Linked DNA regions of Homo sapiens. The protein of the gene in region 3 interacts with the protein of the main gene of each other region in a pairwise test. Each region holds a gene or a part of one and is shown on either strand. Other genes may lie near its edges.

Region 1 (3,653 bases), on a different chromosome or scaffold from region 3:
ATTTGGATGACATTTGTCCTTTTAGATCACTAGGGTATTATTTAGTCATTAACTATTATTTAGCATTATGAATGATAAGATGGCTATTATGCCATTTAACAATTGTCTGTATATTAAGATGATAATCAAACTCACTGACAGTGCTTTCTAGTAGATTGGAGAGGTATCTGAAGTGCATATTACAAAAAAAATTTTATGCACAGCTGTCATCCTTCCATTAAGGATTATACATATCTGATTTTAGGTAGTTTACATTTATGGATGGATATTACCCCTTTAGAATAAAATTTTCTTATTGTGAGAATATAATATTCTTCTGGCGTCTAATTTTAGGAATATAATAAGTCACATTCTATAATTTTACTCACAATGGAGCAAAGATTAAGAGACATAAAATGATTTTACCCACCCTGCATGAAAATGCCCCTGGTTTATATACTTAATTCAAAAGAGCACCATACAGATAACCTACCAATTACAAGGAGGTTTTCAATTGGCTTAGCTCAATAGAAATTGCAAAAGATTGAAGAACTGAGTGTGGTATGGTGGAAGAGAGCACAGGCCTGGTTCCAGAGGTGCCTGAGTCGTGAACTCTGGTCCTGCCACTCAAAGGCTGGGTAAGAGGTAAATTGTTTAACTTCCCGGAGGCTTTGTCTTATTCCACTCTGAGGAATTACAAGGAGTAAAAGAGATGGAACAGAGTTGCTGGCACAACATATGCATTAATAAATGTCTGTCCCTTTACCTGCTACAAGATCCTTCCAATGGCGTGTACCTCCCCATAGGGTGTACCTCATATTATGAGAACAATCTGACTCAGAAACAGGGTGCCTAGTCATTGATTCCATTTTTTGTGTGTGAGGAATATAAAATTAAGAACAAATGATCTGTGTACAAATGTAAGACTAGGGAAGAGAATCTAGGACAAGCACCCAAAGGTGCAGAACTCAGATTTTAAATAGAAGTAATAATCATGTTTTCTTCCCCAATGTTTATTGTTTTGTGCAAGTGTACTTGTACCATGAGCATGTGGATTTGTGAAATGTGCACACACACAACTTGTAGAAACCTTGGGAGAATTCACTGATGGGCTGTGAAAAGGGCTACAACAGCTACCTCTTTGATTTAAGAGGCAAGAGGGTTTTGAGCACTTCTCCGCTGATGTGCATTTGGCGATCTCTCTGGGCTTCGTGGCCTACCCCTCTCAGGAATGACTGATGGATGGCTATAGCACTGGGCGGATATGCTTCAGGGCACCTCTTCAGAGTTTTTTTTTTTTTTTTTTTTTTTTTTTTTTGAGACGTAGTCTCGCTCTGTCGCCCAGGTTGGAGTGCAGTGGCACGATCTCGGCTCACTGCAACCTCCGCCTCCTGGGTTCAAGCGATTCTCCTGCCTCAGCCTCCTGAGTAGCTGGGATTACAAGTGCCTGCCACCATGCCCAGCTAACTTTTGTATTTTTAGAAGAGACAGGGTTTCAGCCTGTTGGCCAGGCTGGTCATGAACTCCTGACCCCAAGTGATCAGCCCGCCTCAGTTTTCAGAGTTGAATGCCCTCCTGGCTCTGAAGTTTTATAAAAGCCCCTTCAATGATGTTGATAAGCCTGAAAAATTTCTGGCTGTTCCATTATTGAGCTTTAAAAAAGCTTAATATGCTAGTAATACTCATACATAAATGACCTTGTCTCCACTGGTGCTGACCTTAGCCATCCAGCCCTTCCTTCTGGGAGTAGCCTTTCTCTGTCTCAGACATCTGCTCTGGGATCCTCCCACTGCCCATGTTGACATTCCCTGTCTCTCTTGCTTCCCAGCTCTTGCTCTAACTCCCCATACCTGCCAATATGCTTTTCCCTTTGGTTTCACTATTCTTGGTATTTTGGCTGAGACACACCAGCTCTATTAGTGTCAGGTTTGCAGAGCCCTCAGCCGCTGGGCTGCCTTCAACAGCCCTCCCCTTCTTCTCCACAAGAAAAAGGTAGAGGATGACCCCTCTCCCTTAACCCCTATCATCCTATTTCTTAGACTTTTTAGAAGTGCATTACAATATCTTTCCTAACTAGCCCAAATCAATTGTTAGATTTTAGTGGTGATAATTAGAATCACAGTCATATTTTCTACAGTGTTTTTTAAATACTCCCCTATATTTGTTATCTATTGCTGCATAACAAATTACCACAAAGCTAGTGGCTTAAAAAAACACTTATCTGTCATTCCACAGCTCTGTAGGTCAGGAGTTTGCTGGCTGCAATCAAGGTGTCAGCTATGGCTGGGCTTTCATCTGAAGGCTTGAGTGGGGCAGATCCACTACTGAGCTCATGGGCATTGACAGGATTCAGACTCTTGCAGGCTGATGGACTGAGGGCCTCAATTTCTTACTGGCTTTAGCTAGAGGCTACCCTCAATTTCCTTCTATGTGAACCTCCCAGTATGGCCTCTTGCTTCATCAAAGCCAGCAAGGGAGAAAGTCTGCTAGTAATAGAATCATGCAAGTGACATTCCATCACCTTTGCTGTATTCTCTTGGCTAGTAGCAAGTCATAGGTTCCTTCTTAACTCAAAAGGAAGGGATTAAACAAGGATGTGAGTACTAGGAGATGAGGATAATCATAAACCATCTTAGAGTCTGTCTGCTATACTCCCCATGAAACTTTTATATCTACTTCTTCAATTAGATTTTTATTTGGAGTATTACATTTCCTCTTTAAGACTTTAGATATCATTGGGATGGTGTACTAGTCAGGGTTCTCCAGAGGGACAGAGCCAATAGGATATATCTATAAAAATGGATTTATTAGGGGAGAATTGGCTAACACGATCACAAAGGTAAAGTCCCAGCATAGGTCATGAGCAAGCTGCAGAACCAGAGAAGCCAGTGGCATGGCTGTCAGAGAGCCTGGTAGCATGGCTCAGTCCAATTCCGAAAGCCTCAAAACTGGGGAAGCCAACAGTACAGCTCCCAGTCTGAGGTCAAAAGACTGAGAGCCTCTAGGAGCTTGCTGGTACAAGTCCAACAATCCAAAAGCTGAAGAACCTGGAGTCTCACGTCCAAGGGCAGGAGGAGAAAGTCCTGCTCTGGCAGGGAGAGACAGAGCAGAGGGTGGATCCCCCATCTTTTCCCACACTCCTTCTTTGTCCTCGTGGGGCCACCAGCCAACTGGATGGTGCCTATCCATATTGAGGGTTGGTCTGCTTCTCTTAGGCCACTGACTCCTGCATCATTCTTCTCTGGAAACACCCTCACAGACACATCCAGAAACACTGCTCACCAGCCATCTAGGCATCCTTCAATCCAGTCAAGTTGACACCTACTGTTAACCATTGCAGGTGGTAAAGCCTGAAATAACTGCCTCCGTCAGAGAAGAAATTGTTCTCTTCTTTCCAACCTGAGAGCTGTTGCACTGTAGAAACAATGGCGCTGGAAGGGTAATTTTTGGTGTTTGAGCTGCTATTGGGGAAGTCCATCTGAATAAGAGGCTGCTGTGGTGAGCTCTGAAGAAGCAGAAGGCAGTATGCTTTGTGAATTTTATGCAAATGTTACAGATTTATAAAAATGAAAACACTCAAATTGTCTCATTTTTGGAAAAATTAAAAAACACAGGAAGTCAGGATGATGCTCTGAAACTCAGGTTGAAAGTGGGTAAAGGGCACAGAGTGAGAC
Region 2 (3,653 bases), on a different chromosome or scaffold from region 3:
AAATCAGTTTCTTTTCTCTGATACTTTCAATCCTTGAGAACAGAGAATGTCTGCATATTTACTGGCTTAAAATTTCATACCCTAACATCATTAGCATATCAAGATGTTTTAGTGTACTCATCTTTATCACCAGATGTTGAGTTGATTGGTATTCCCTAATTTTTCTTCAGATAATCAAATGAATGTTTCTGTCATCAATTTCCCAAAATATATCTCCATACCAAGTTACATGTTCTTTCTATAGTTTTATGTTTTTAATGAACCATGTAGTTAAAATCATTCTGTTTTAATACTCGTACTTGCATGGCTATAAAATTTCTACTCTTGATGTTTTTATATGTAATTATTTCTAGGATCTGAAGAAGATGATGAAGTTGTGGCAATGATTAAGGAATTGTTAGATACTAGAATACGGTACGTGCTCCTCTCTCTACCTGAATTCAAGTGCTTTGGAGGCATTTTTCATTATAGCAATATAGTTTTAGTTGGCCATGAGATTATAGTAGATTTTCAAAATAAGTGCAAGTTAATGTAAACCACAACAGGTAGCCGTGACAATTGAATTTAAAGCCTGTATCTTCTCTACATTTACTCAAAATTTTAAAACATCCAATTTATTTAAACATATTCAATGAAGAAATGTATTCTTCACAGTCTCAATTTAGATTTGATATTGTTATAATACCAAATTTCTTAAAAAGAAAAAAAAAAGACTTAATGTTTGGCAAGGTTGTGAAGAGAGAATGAGTACCTATTTTCAGTATATTGCCCATACAGAATAAATGTTAAGTGAGTGGAGAACAGCAGGCTTCTACTTTTGCTTGTAGCAGACCAATAGTCATGCTGAGAACTCCCAGAAAAGCTGGATAAAGTACAATAAAAAGAATTTGTTTGAAAGCATTAGATAGCTGCCAGAGCAAGCAAAATGTGAGGTGCCAAGATCCTGGAGAGAAGGGAAGCTCACTGAGTTTTCCCTTCAGGCATTTGCTGTTCCTTGCTACATAGCTAGGGTAGAAGAAGCTGGGCAGAGGGCAGCTGCCAAGAATCAGAGAAACCACTGGGCTTTCAGAAAATTTGTTTAGATGGGAAGACAAAAATTAAAATTCTGGGTTACCAATGAAATCTTGATTTCAAGGACCAAGATCCTAGAGAGCAGGGAAGTTAAGAAAAGTAAGCCTATAGTTTTTGGTTTTTTTTTAAGACGGAGTCTTGCTCTGTCACCCAGGCTGGCATGCAATCTCAGCTCACTACAGCCTCGCCTCCCGGGTTCAAGCGGTTCTCCAGATTCAGCCTCCTGAGTAGCTGGGATTACAGGCACAGGCCACCACACCCAGCTAATTTTTGTATTTTTGGAAGAGACAGGGTTTCACCATGTTGGCCAGGCTGGTCTTGAACTCCTGACCTTGTGATCCGCCCACCTCAACTTCTCAAAGTGCTGGGATTACAGACATGAGCCACTGCGCCCAGCCAAGTAAGCCTATAGTTAGTAACAATGTATTGTATTCTTGAAAATTGTGGCTGGGTGTGGTGGCTCACGCTTGTAATCCCAGCTGTTTGGGAGGCGGAGGTAGGTGGATCACCTAAGATCAGGAGTTCAAGACCAGCCTGGCCAACATGTTGAAACCCCATCTCTACTAAGAATACAAAAATTAGCCAGGCGTGGTGGTGGGCATCTGTAATCCCAGCTACTAGGGAGACCGAGGTAGGAGAATCACTTGAACCCTGGAGGCGGAGGTTGCAGTCAGCCAAGATTATGCCATTGCACTCCAGCCTGGGCGACGAGCAAAACTCTTTCTCAAAAAAAAAAAAAAAAAAAAAAATTTGCTAAGATAGTAGTTATTAAGTGTTCTTGACACAAAAAATAAGTATGCGAGGTAATGTATATGTTAGTATATGTTAATTAGCTTGATTTAGCCATTCCATGGTGTATACAGATATTTTTTTTTTGAGACAGAGTCTTGCTCTGTCACCCAGGCTGGAGTGCTGCACGATATCAGCTCACTGCAACCTCTGCCTCCCAGGTTCAAGTGATTCTCCTGCCTCAGCCTCCTGAGTAGCTGGGATTACAGGCATGTACCACCACACCCAGCTAATTTTTGTAGTTTTAGTAGAGACAGGGTTTCACCGTGTTGGCCAGGTTGGTCACGACCTCCTGACCTCAGGTGATCTACCCTCCTCGGCCTCCCAAAGTGCCGGGATTACAGGCGTGGGTCACCGCTCCCGGCCTACATATTTCAAAACATCATGTTGTACATGGAAATATCTATAATTTTTGTGAATTAAGAATAATTAATTGGAGGCCGGGTGCGGTGCCTCACGCCTGTAATCCCAGCACTTTGGGAGGCCGAGGTGGGTGGATCATGAGGTCAGGAGATTGAGACCATCCTGGCTAACACAGTGAAACCCTGTCTCTATTAAAAATACAAAAAATTAGCCGGGCATGGTGGCGGGGGCCTGTAGTCCCAGCTACTCGGGAGGCTGAGGCAGGAGAATGGCGTGAACCTGGGAGGCGGAGCTTGCAGTGACCCAAGATTGCACCACTGCACTCCAGCCTGGGCGACAGAGTGAGACTCTATCTCAAAAAAAAAAAAAGTAACCCTGGAACTAAAATTATAATAACTGAACTTAAGAACTCATTAGATTGGACATAGTTGAAGAGAAGATTAGTATACTGGAATTTAAGTCAGTAGAAAATATTCAGCCTGAAGCACAGGGAGAGAAGAGAATAGAAGATATGGGAAAGAAGCATGAGATGGTGGGCACGGTGCTCACACCTATAATTCCAGCACTTTGGGAGGCTGAGGTAGGAGGATTGCTTGAGCTCAGAAGTTAGAGACCACCCTGGCAACATAGTGAGACCTTGTCTCTACAAAAAATTAAAAAATTAGCTGGGTGTGGTGGTGTGCACCTGTAGTCTCAGCTGTTCCTGAGGCGGGAAGATTGCTTGAGCCCGGGAGATTGAGGCTGCAGTGGGCTGTGATCACACCATTGCACTCTGGTCAAGGAGATAGAACAAGACCCTGTCTCACCAGAAAAAAAAAAATGAATCAAACCTCCGGAGGGGAGAAATAGAATAAAAAATAATTCATCAATCTGAAACAATGCAAAATAGGAAACAGTAAATGGTAATATAAACTCAAAAGTGTTGGCATTTAAATGACAGTAGTTTGATGAACAAAAATAAGATTGTCAAATTGGATGTGAAAAAACAAAAAAACAAAATCAACTATAGACTGCTTAGAAGAGATATAGGGGCCAGGCATGGCGGCTAATGCCTGTAATCCTAGCATTTTGGGAGGCCAAGGTGGCAGATTGCTTGAGCCCAGGAGTTTGAGACCAGCCTGGGCAACATAGTGAGACCCCGTCTCTACAATGAAAGAAAGAGAGAAAGAGAAAGAAAGAGAGAGGGAGGGAGGAAGGAAGTGAAGGAAGGAAGGAGGGAGGGAGGGGAAAAGAAAAGAGAAGAGAAAAGGAAAGAAATAGAATATTTGTATGACCTTCGGGTAGGCAATTTTTTTTTTTTTCCCCAACGGGACACAAGAAATCAGATAAAGACCGGGCGCGGTGGCTTACACCTGTAATCCCAGCACTTTGAGAGGCCGAGGTGAATGGATCATCTGAGGTTGGGAGTTCGAGACCACCCTGACCAACAT
Region 3 (4,332 bases):
ACTGACTCTGTCTCATAAAAAAAAAGAAAAAAGAAAAAAAAAAAGAGATGGCTGATGGTTAAAGAGGGGTTAGCGGTCAGGGGACACATAAGGGTAAAGGCAGGAGGCAAGAGGACTGGCAGGGGGCTGCCCCTGGGCCACCGGGAGCGACACAGGATGAGCATGGAGGGAAAGGGAGAAGGGGATTCTAGGGTCCCAGCCTACCCAAGTTGCCCTCTGGTTCCACCTAGCATGCCAGCCAGAGGCCCAGGAAGGAACCCTGAGCCCCCCACCAAAGCTAAAGATGAGTCGCTGGAGCCTGGTGAGGGGCAGGATGAAGGAGCTGCTGGAGACAGTGGTGAACAGGACCAGAGACGGGTGGCAATGGTTCTGGTGAGGGTGTGCTGGGCTGGGTGGTGGGAGGGGACTCCTGGGTCTGAGGGAGGAGGGGCTGGGGCCTGGACCCCTGAGTCTCAGGGAGGAGGAAAGGGTGGGAGTGGGGCTGTGACCCCTAGGTCTGGGAGGAGTGGAGGGTTAGAGCTGAGAGCAGGAACTCCTAGGTCACAGAGAGGAGCGGATAAATGGGGCAGAGAACACCTGGGGAGAGCTGGGGCCTCCACTGTGATGTCCTCTCTCCTGTAGGAGCCCGAGCACCTTCCGGGGCTTCATGCAGACCTACTATGACGACCACCTGAGGGACCTGGGTCCGCTCACCAAGGCCTGGTTCCTCGAATCCAAAGACAGCCTCTTGAAGAAGACCCACAGCCTGTGCCCCAGGCTTGTCTGTGGGGACAAGGACCAGGGTTAAAATGTTCATAAAAGCCAGGTGTGGTTGTGGCGGGTGCCTGTAGTCCCAGCTACTCAGGAGGCTGAGGTAGGATGATGGCTTGAGCCCAGGAGTTCGAGACCAGCCTGGGCAACACAGCGAGATCTCTTGGGGGTAAAACAAAAAGAAAAAAAAAAGTTCATACTTCTCCAATAAATAAAGTCTCACCTGTGTCCCTGTCTGGATCCTTCCCCAGTGTGGCCAGAAAAAAACCCACCCCACTGCCTCCCAGGAATCAATGAGTAGAAGAGGTGACACCTGATGGGGAAGGAAGAGTAGGGAGGTCGGGAAGGGTATCAAGGAATAACACCCTATTGTGGGCTTGCGGAGAATGGGGGACTTCAAGGCGTGTCAGTTTCAGGAGGGTGAGGGCAGGAGCGTGGGTGGAGTCAGCAGGTCCCCATGATGGCCCTCACTGAGAGCTTCGCCCTTGTCTCCTACAAGCTCTGACTCCATTCCCAGTGGGCACCCAGCACCTCCAACCCCTCCACAGCCCCCAACCCAGCCTCTGTCGGAGGCGAATTCTCAGAGTGAGGGTTCCCTGTCACTTGAGAGAAGGTTCCCTGTGACGTGACCTTGGGGGACGTCATTGCCCTTTCTGTCCCCACCCACCCCCTCCGCAGTTCTGTTGGCCAGGACTTTGGCCTAGACAAAGGATGGGGGTTGTGGCTGTGGAGCGGAAGTGGGTCTCAACCACTATAAATCCTCTCTGTGCCCGTCCGGAGCTGGTGAGGACAGCCTGCCAGAGTCTGGTAAGAAAGGGACTCAGGGTGCGGGGACAGGGGGGCGTCAGCAGGGAGAGGGCAAAGATCGATAAAGCAGGAATTTTAAGAGGCACAATATTAGAAGCCCGTGTTGGAACCATGACTGTGTGTGTGTGTGTGTGTGTGTGTGTGTGTGTGTGTGTGTGTGAGAGAGAGAGAGAGGGAGATGGAGTCTCGCTATGTAGCCCAGGCTAGACTCAAACTCCTGGGCTCAAGCAATCCTCCTGCCTCAGCCTCCCCAGTAGCTGGGACTACAGGTGCACCACCACACTCCACAAATCACAGAATTTAGAACTGTAGACTATTTGAGCTTCTGCTTAGAGTTAGGGTGGCTGAGGTGGGGAGGATCCCTTGAGCCCAGGAGTTTGAGGATGCAGTGAGCTGTGATCTTGCCACCGTGTTCCAGCCTGGGTGACAGAGAAACCCCATTTCTAAAAAAGAGAAAGAAAAAGGGATAGGTACAATGGCTCATGCCTGTAATCCCAGCACTCTGGGAGGCCGAGGCGGGTGGATCACTTGAGGTCAGGAGTTCGACACCAGCCTTACCAGCATGGTGAAACCGCATCTATACTAAAAATACAAAAATTGGCCGGGTGTGGTAGCATATGCCTGTAATCCCAGCTATTCCAGAGGCTGAGACAGGAGAATTGCTTGAACCCAGGAAGCGGAGGTTGCAGTGAGCCCAGATCGTGCCACTGTACTCTAGCCTGGGTGACAGAGCAAGACTCAGTCTTGGCGGAAAAAAAGAATGAAAAAATTTAAAAAACTAAAAAAGAACTGTAGGCTGGGCGTGGTGGCTTACACTTGTAATCCAAACGCTTTGGGAGGCCAAGGCAAACGGATCACTTGATGTCAGGAGTTGGAGACCAGCCTGGCCAACATGGTGAAACCCCGTCTCTACTAAAAATACAAAAATTAGACAGGCATGGTGGTGCATGCTTGTATTTCCAGTTACTCAGGAGGCTGAGGCAGGAGAATCGCTCGAACCCGGAAGACAGAGGTTGCGGTGAGCCAAAATTGCGCCATCGCACTCCAGCCTGGGCGAGAGAACAAGACCTTGTCTTGGAAAAAAAAAAAGAATTGTAGACCATTTGCTTGTGTTCTTTCTCCGGGGATCAGATCTCACCCTCTTTCTGCCGTACTTCCTCATCTCCTACGTGTGGATGATGATATTGTGCCCTGTGCATGTTCTTCGTCACCAAAAGTGCCTCTCTCATAGAGCAGGTGAGAACTCAGTGAGGAGATGCAGGGACATGAGGTCTGACTTAGGGCAGAGCCCTAAGGTAACACATTTGATCTACTGTAGGTCCTTAATGGTGTCTGCAGAGCACCTCCCTGCACTGACTCAGCCTTAGCAAAGGGCAGAGGCTTTGCTGTGTTCCCTGCTGGGCCCAGAACTGTTTAGGTGCTCAAGAAAGCCTTCTAGGCTGGGCTCAGTGGCTCACACCTGTACTCCCAGCACCCTGGGGAGGCCGAGATGGGAGGATCGCTTGAGCCCAGGAGTTCCAGACCAGCCTGGGCAACAAAACAAGTCTCCCATCTCTACAAAAGAATAAAAATTAGCAGCTGGGCATGGTGGCTCATGCCTGTAATTCCAGCACTTTGGGAGGCCAAGGCAGGCAAATCACTTGAGGTTAGGAGTTCAAGACCAGCCTGGCCAACATGGTGAAACCCCATCTCTACTAAAAATACAAAAATCAGGTGGGGCACAGTGGCTCAAGCCTGTAATCCTAGCACTTTGGGAGGCCAAGGTGGGCGGATCACGAGGTCAGAAGTTCGAGACCAGCCTGGCCAGCATGGTGAAACCCCATCTCTACTAAAAATACAAAATATTAGCCGGGCATGGTGGCAGGTGCTTGTGATTCCAGCTCCTTGGGAGGCTGAGGCAGAAGAATTGCTAGAACCCTGGAGGCAGAGGTTGCAGTGAGCCGAGAACACGCCACTGCACTCCAGCCTGGGTGACAGAGCGAGACTCCATCTCAAAAAATACGAAAACAAAAATCAGCCGGGTGGTGGCGGGTGCCTGTAATCCCAGCTACTGGGGAGGCTGAGGCAGGAGAATTGCTTGAACCTGGGAGGTGGGGGTTGCAGTGAGCCAAGATTGCACCACTGCACTCCAGCCTGGGCAACAGAGTGAGATTCCATCTCAAAAAAGAAAAAAATAATAATTAAAATGTTAAAATCAGGAGTAGAATCACAGAATGTTGGAAAGTGAGGCCCAAGAAGGGGGCTGTGTCCAAGTCCATGCATGGGAAACTTGACTGGGACACCGAGCTCACACAGAGCAGGATCTCAGTCCCCCCCACCAGAGTGGGGCGTGACCACAGGAACAGCCGCCTCCAGTCAGCCTGCCACATGACACCCCCTCAATGTTCCAGGTCTCTGGACACTATGGGCACACGACTCCTCCCAGCTCTGTTTCTTGTCCTCCTGGTATTGGGATTTGGTGAGTGTGGGCTTCCGGGGAGGGAAGCCTTGGGGAGGGGAATGAGCTCCAAGCATCTTCCCAGCCCAGGCCCTTCTTACCTCTGCCTCTGCCCTCTCCTCTTCTTCCTTCCTCCTTTCCCCCTGCTGCAGCCCCACGGGCTCTCCTGACACACTCTCCCCCTGCAGAGGTCCAGGGGACCCAACAGCCCCAGCAAGATGAGATGCCTAGCCCGACCTTCCTCACCCAGGTGAAGGAATCTCTCTCCAGTTACTGGGAGTCAGCAAAGACAGCCGCCCAGAACCTGTACGAGAAGACATACCTGCCCGCTGTAGATG
Region 4 (4,113 bases), on a different chromosome or scaffold from region 3:
CAGAATTGTAGTTTTGTTTGTTTGTTTGAGACCGAGTTTAGCTCTTGTTGCCCAGGCTGGAGTGCAGTGGCGCGATCTCGGCTCACTGCAACCTCCGCCTCCCGGGTTCAAGCGATTCTCCTGCCTCAGCCTCCCGAGTAGCTGGGATTACAGGTATGGGCCACCACCATGCCCGGCTAATTTTGTATTTTTAGTAGAGATGGGATTTCTACTGGCTGGTCTTGAACTCCTGACCTCCGGTGATCCGTCCGCCTCGGCCTCGCAAAGTGCTGGGATTACAGGCGTGAGCCACCGCGCCCGGCCCCAGAACTGTAATTCTATGACCACCCTTATAAATGTAAATATCAGGTAAGAAAATTGCTGGGTATTTTTCCTACCATAAACTGACTTACTGTAATCCTGTGGATTTTTCCTTTTAATACCTTGTTTTTCTTAGGTCTGGACTCCCTTGAAAAGCACTGCAAGTAAAAGCACTTTTTGTTTCCCTAATATTTCTCTATGAGTTTTCTTTTAAAGACCTAAGGTTCTAACTACAGGTATAAAAGACTCCAATGTCGGAACTAGAACCTAAGTAAGTTAGAATTCAAGACGAGTAGGAGTTTTCCGGGGGAATCCCATTGCTTTCCTTTTTGGCTCAGTGGAGTGAAAAGTTGTGCCTTCAAATCCATTAATTCGGAGCAGACTGACAGATGCGGAGTAAAGAGTTTAGGCAAAATACCTCTCGCACTCAGCTCTCCGCCATCATCTTGCTCCCCAGAAACATGGGACTTTCTCCGGAAATTTCAATAGAGGAGCCAGTCGGCGTCCCCCGTGCACCTTTCCCTTGGTCTAAGGGCCAACCAGTGATCTGCTGCCGTCCTGCGCCTCTTTCCCACACCCTGGGTCTCTAAAAACCAGTTCCCAGCTGTCCGAAAGGTAAAGACGTGTCTCTCGCTGGTTTCTCGAGGTTCTGCCCCGCGCGAGGGCCTCACCTGTGGGTAGAGGTGCTGCATGAACTGCTCCCGAGAAACGCCCTCCAGCCGGGGTACCGGGAGGTGCTGCCCGGCCATGGTTGCTCACGCCTGCCCTCTTCCAGGTCTTCGGAACTTCGGCTCTAAAGCGTTCCTCAGCGCCATCCGCCCGGAAACACGAGCGACAGAGAAAAGGTCCGCGAGGCCGGCAGACTCCAGAGTGGCTGGGTCCGAGCGCGGGGCGGGTTGCCGAAGGGCCTCGGCCTGGGCTGCGTGCTGGAGAGCGGGGACGGGGCCGACTCACCAGAGGCTGCAGCAACAGGTCCACTTTGCTCTCCAGTCTCTTTCTCCGACACCGCTGAGGCGGTTTCCCACCGACTTCCTTTCCATACAGCACCGGCAGGCACCGGTGTGAAGGGTCATAAAAATGGCGCTGGCCGCTCGTTTGCTACCCCAGTTCCTGCACTCTCGGTCGCTGCCCTGCGGGGCCGTCCGACTCCGGACTCCTGCTGTGGCCGAGGTGAGGCTGCCGTCGGCCACACTTTGCTACTTCTGCCGCTGTCGCCTCGGCTTGGGAGCGGCGTTATTTCCACGAAGCGCTAGGGCCTTGGCAGCCTCGGCGCTACCTGCCCAGGGCTCCCGGTGGCCAGTGCTCAGCAGCCCGGGACTCCCCGCAGCCTTCGCTTCTTTCCCTGCCTGCCCTCAGCGCAGCTACAGCACGGAGGAGAAGCCCCAGCAGCACCAGAAAACCAAGATGATCGTCCTGGGATTCTCCAACCCCATCAACTGGGTTAGGACTCGAATTAAGGCCTTCCTTATCTGGGCCTATTTCGACAAAGAGTTCAGCATCACAGAGTTCTCCGAGGGAGCGAAGCAGGTTTGTTTATTTCCCTGATTGACCTATCCGTCTCTAATGAGTTCAACTATTGCTCGCAGAAGTGCTTAGCAGTGAGTTTTCTTCACTGGGATACAAGTGATCAAACGTGATTAGTGGCCCAGACATAGAGCCTTCCAGCCATTGCTTGACTTAAAGTAAGCTTCTGGGCCGGGAATGGTGGTACACGCCTGTAGTCTCAGCTACTTGGGAGGCTGAAGGGGAGGATCGCTTGAACCCAGGAGTTGGACGTTGTAGTGAGCTGTGATCGTGCCATTGCACTCCAGCCTGGGATACAGAGCCAGGCCCTGTCTCAGAAAGAAAAAGCTATATGGCTCATCTTGTCTGAACATAATTTTCAAATTTACAAAGTGGGCAAGACAATGCCTGGCACATAGTAGGCACTCCATGAATGTTTGCTGAATACATTAATAAATGGGTAAGATTGAAGAATAATTGAGATAACATTTCCAAAGTGCTGTAATGTCACCTTGGGTAGAAGAGCAGAACTTCCTGCCAGCTATTAGACAGAGCCGACCAATACACCACCCCATACTCCGTAAAGATTAAACTGGAGATGAGCAATTTTACCCTTTCAAAGGATTTGCTGAGACTGCCTGGTGGCTAAGTGCACAGCACCCTGCACACAGAAAATATTTAGCCTTTAGAGATTCTTATCCCTGACTTTGTTAGTTACGTACCTGTTTCTGAATGGCTGATTATACCTTGCCTTACCCTTGTGACATATGGTCACTTGGGTCCTGAGATTATTTGTAGATTTTGTGGGTACATGCTTTTTTTTTTTTTTTTTGGACTCCTTTACAGATTGTATCGTTCCCAAACATTGCAGAACTGCTGATAACAATAGAAGTCGGCCAGGCATGGCGGCTCACGCCTGTAATCCCAGTACTTTGGGAGGCCGAGGCAGGTGGATCACAAGGTCAGGAGTTCGAGACCAGCCTGGCCAATATGGTGAAACAGTGTCTCTTCTAAAAATACAAAAATTAGGCGTGGCGAGCCCCTGTAGTCCCACCTACTCTGGAGGCTGAGGCAGGAGAATTGCATGAACCCGGGAGGTGGAGGTTGCAGTGAACCAAGATTGCGCCACTGCACTCCAGCCTGGGTGACAGAGCGAGACTCCGTCTCAAAAAACAAAAACAAACAAAAAAACCACAATAGAAGTCAGAAAGTTTATTTCCCGCTTCATACCTCCATATGCCTTAAAACCATGCTATTGGTGTAATCATTTTACAGTATTGGTTGTATACTGGTATTGATATTTTACTCCAAATTTATTTCAGATTCTTTCCATAATCATGGCCATTTGTATTTATAAGACCAATCAGTTGTAAATCAAATGTTTTCAACTTTGTTTAATAAGTGTCAGTATTAACTCCTGCTGCCTGCTTCTCTGAGTCAACTCTTGACTACTATATATATTTATATAAAAAAAGTCAAAGAACAAACTTGATTAAGATGCTTAACTCAGCATTATAATTGATAAACCTCTGCTCTTGTCAGTTCTCAAAGTCTTTTGTCCATGCAGTGGTAAGTTGTATTGATCCTACTGTTCTGTACAATGCCCACTGATGATATATGAGCTTGTCCACCTCATAACACATATGATGGTACCAGTTCATTTATGTTTCAGTAAGGAATGGAAATCATCTCCCCACCATGGGCAGGCATCAGGCCTCAGTACTTGTTTCCTCTGAACACACAGAGGAGCATGCAGCATTTTTGGGGTCACTCCAGTCCTAGTGGTCCTCCAGCTGTTAGCTATTTTCACCTCCTTCCTTGCTATTAAGCAGTATTTCCACCCCATTCATCAGCCAGCCTGTAAGCATTGTTGCTTATATAAAGCAAACAACCTGAATTTCAGTATCAAGGTGTCGGAGGGGTTGTTTTCTCCTGAGGCCTCTCTCAGCTTACAGATGGCCGTCTTCTTGCTGTGTCCTTGCATGGTCCTCCCTGTGCATGCGTGCTCCTGGTGGCTCTTACTCCACATTTGCTCCTCTTATAAGGATGCCAGTCAGATTGGATTTTGGCCCACCCTGATGGTCTCATTTAACTTAATCATCTCTTTAAGGCTTTATCTCCAAATATAGTCACATTTCAAGGTTCTGGGGGTTAGAGCTTCAGCATAAATTTTCGGGGAAGGAGAGCACAATTCATCCTATAACAGTTAGGCAGTATTCTCTGACATGCCATATCTGACATGCCTGTGCATCCTCTGGCAGCCTAGATTTCAGCTTAGATGTTTCTTCCTTTAGGAAGCCCTCTCTGATC

The links. Proteins that work in one complex are often made in the same cells at the same time.
Region 1: the proteins of APOC2 (region 3) and SYT16 interact in a two-hybrid assay, tested with the Homo sapiens proteins (one large-scale study listed by BioGRID).
Region 2: the proteins of APOC2 (region 3) and NFU1 interact in a two-hybrid assay, tested with the Homo sapiens proteins (one large-scale study listed by BioGRID).
Region 4: the proteins of APOC2 (region 3) and MAIP1 interact in a two-hybrid assay, tested with the Homo sapiens proteins (one large-scale study listed by BioGRID).

The regions. Positions count from the first base shown.
Region 1 is NC_000014.9:61,819,203-61,822,855, forward strand, and holds part of SYT16 (synaptotagmin-16), read left to right. Parts: intron 1-3,653. UniProt on the Homo sapiens protein: May be involved in the trafficking and exocytosis of secretory vesicles in non-neuronal tissues. Is Ca(2+)-independent.
Region 2 is NC_000002.12:69,402,783-69,406,435, reverse strand, and holds part of NFU1 (NFU1 iron-sulfur cluster scaffold homolog, mitochondrial), read left to right. Parts: intron 1-353; coding exon 354-414; intron 415-3,653. UniProt on the Homo sapiens protein: Iron-sulfur cluster scaffold protein which can assemble [4Fe-4S] clusters and deliver them to target proteins.
Region 3 is NC_000019.10:44,944,519-44,948,850, forward strand, and holds the start of APOC2 (apolipoprotein C-II precursor), read left to right. Parts: upstream 1-1,532; 5' UTR 1,533-1,557; intron 1,558-3,947; 5' UTR 3,948-3,960; coding exon 3,961-4,015; intron 4,016-4,182; coding exon 4,183-4,332. Other genes in the region: APOC4 (apolipoprotein C-IV precursor), read left to right, coding at 231-372, 622-787. UniProt on the Homo sapiens protein: Component of chylomicrons, very low-density lipoproteins (VLDL), low-density lipoproteins (LDL), and high-density lipoproteins (HDL) in plasma. Plays an important role in lipoprotein metabolism as an activator of lipoprotein lipase.
Region 4 is NC_000002.12:199,954,422-199,958,534, forward strand, and holds the start of MAIP1 (m-AAA protease-interacting protein 1, mitochondrial isoform 1 precursor), read left to right. Parts: upstream 1-1,160; 5' UTR 1,161-1,377; coding exon 1,378-1,827; intron 1,828-4,113. Other genes in the region: TYW5 (tRNA wybutosine-synthesizing protein 5), read right to left, coding at 972-1,049. UniProt on the Homo sapiens protein: Promotes sorting of SMDT1/EMRE in mitochondria by ensuring its maturation.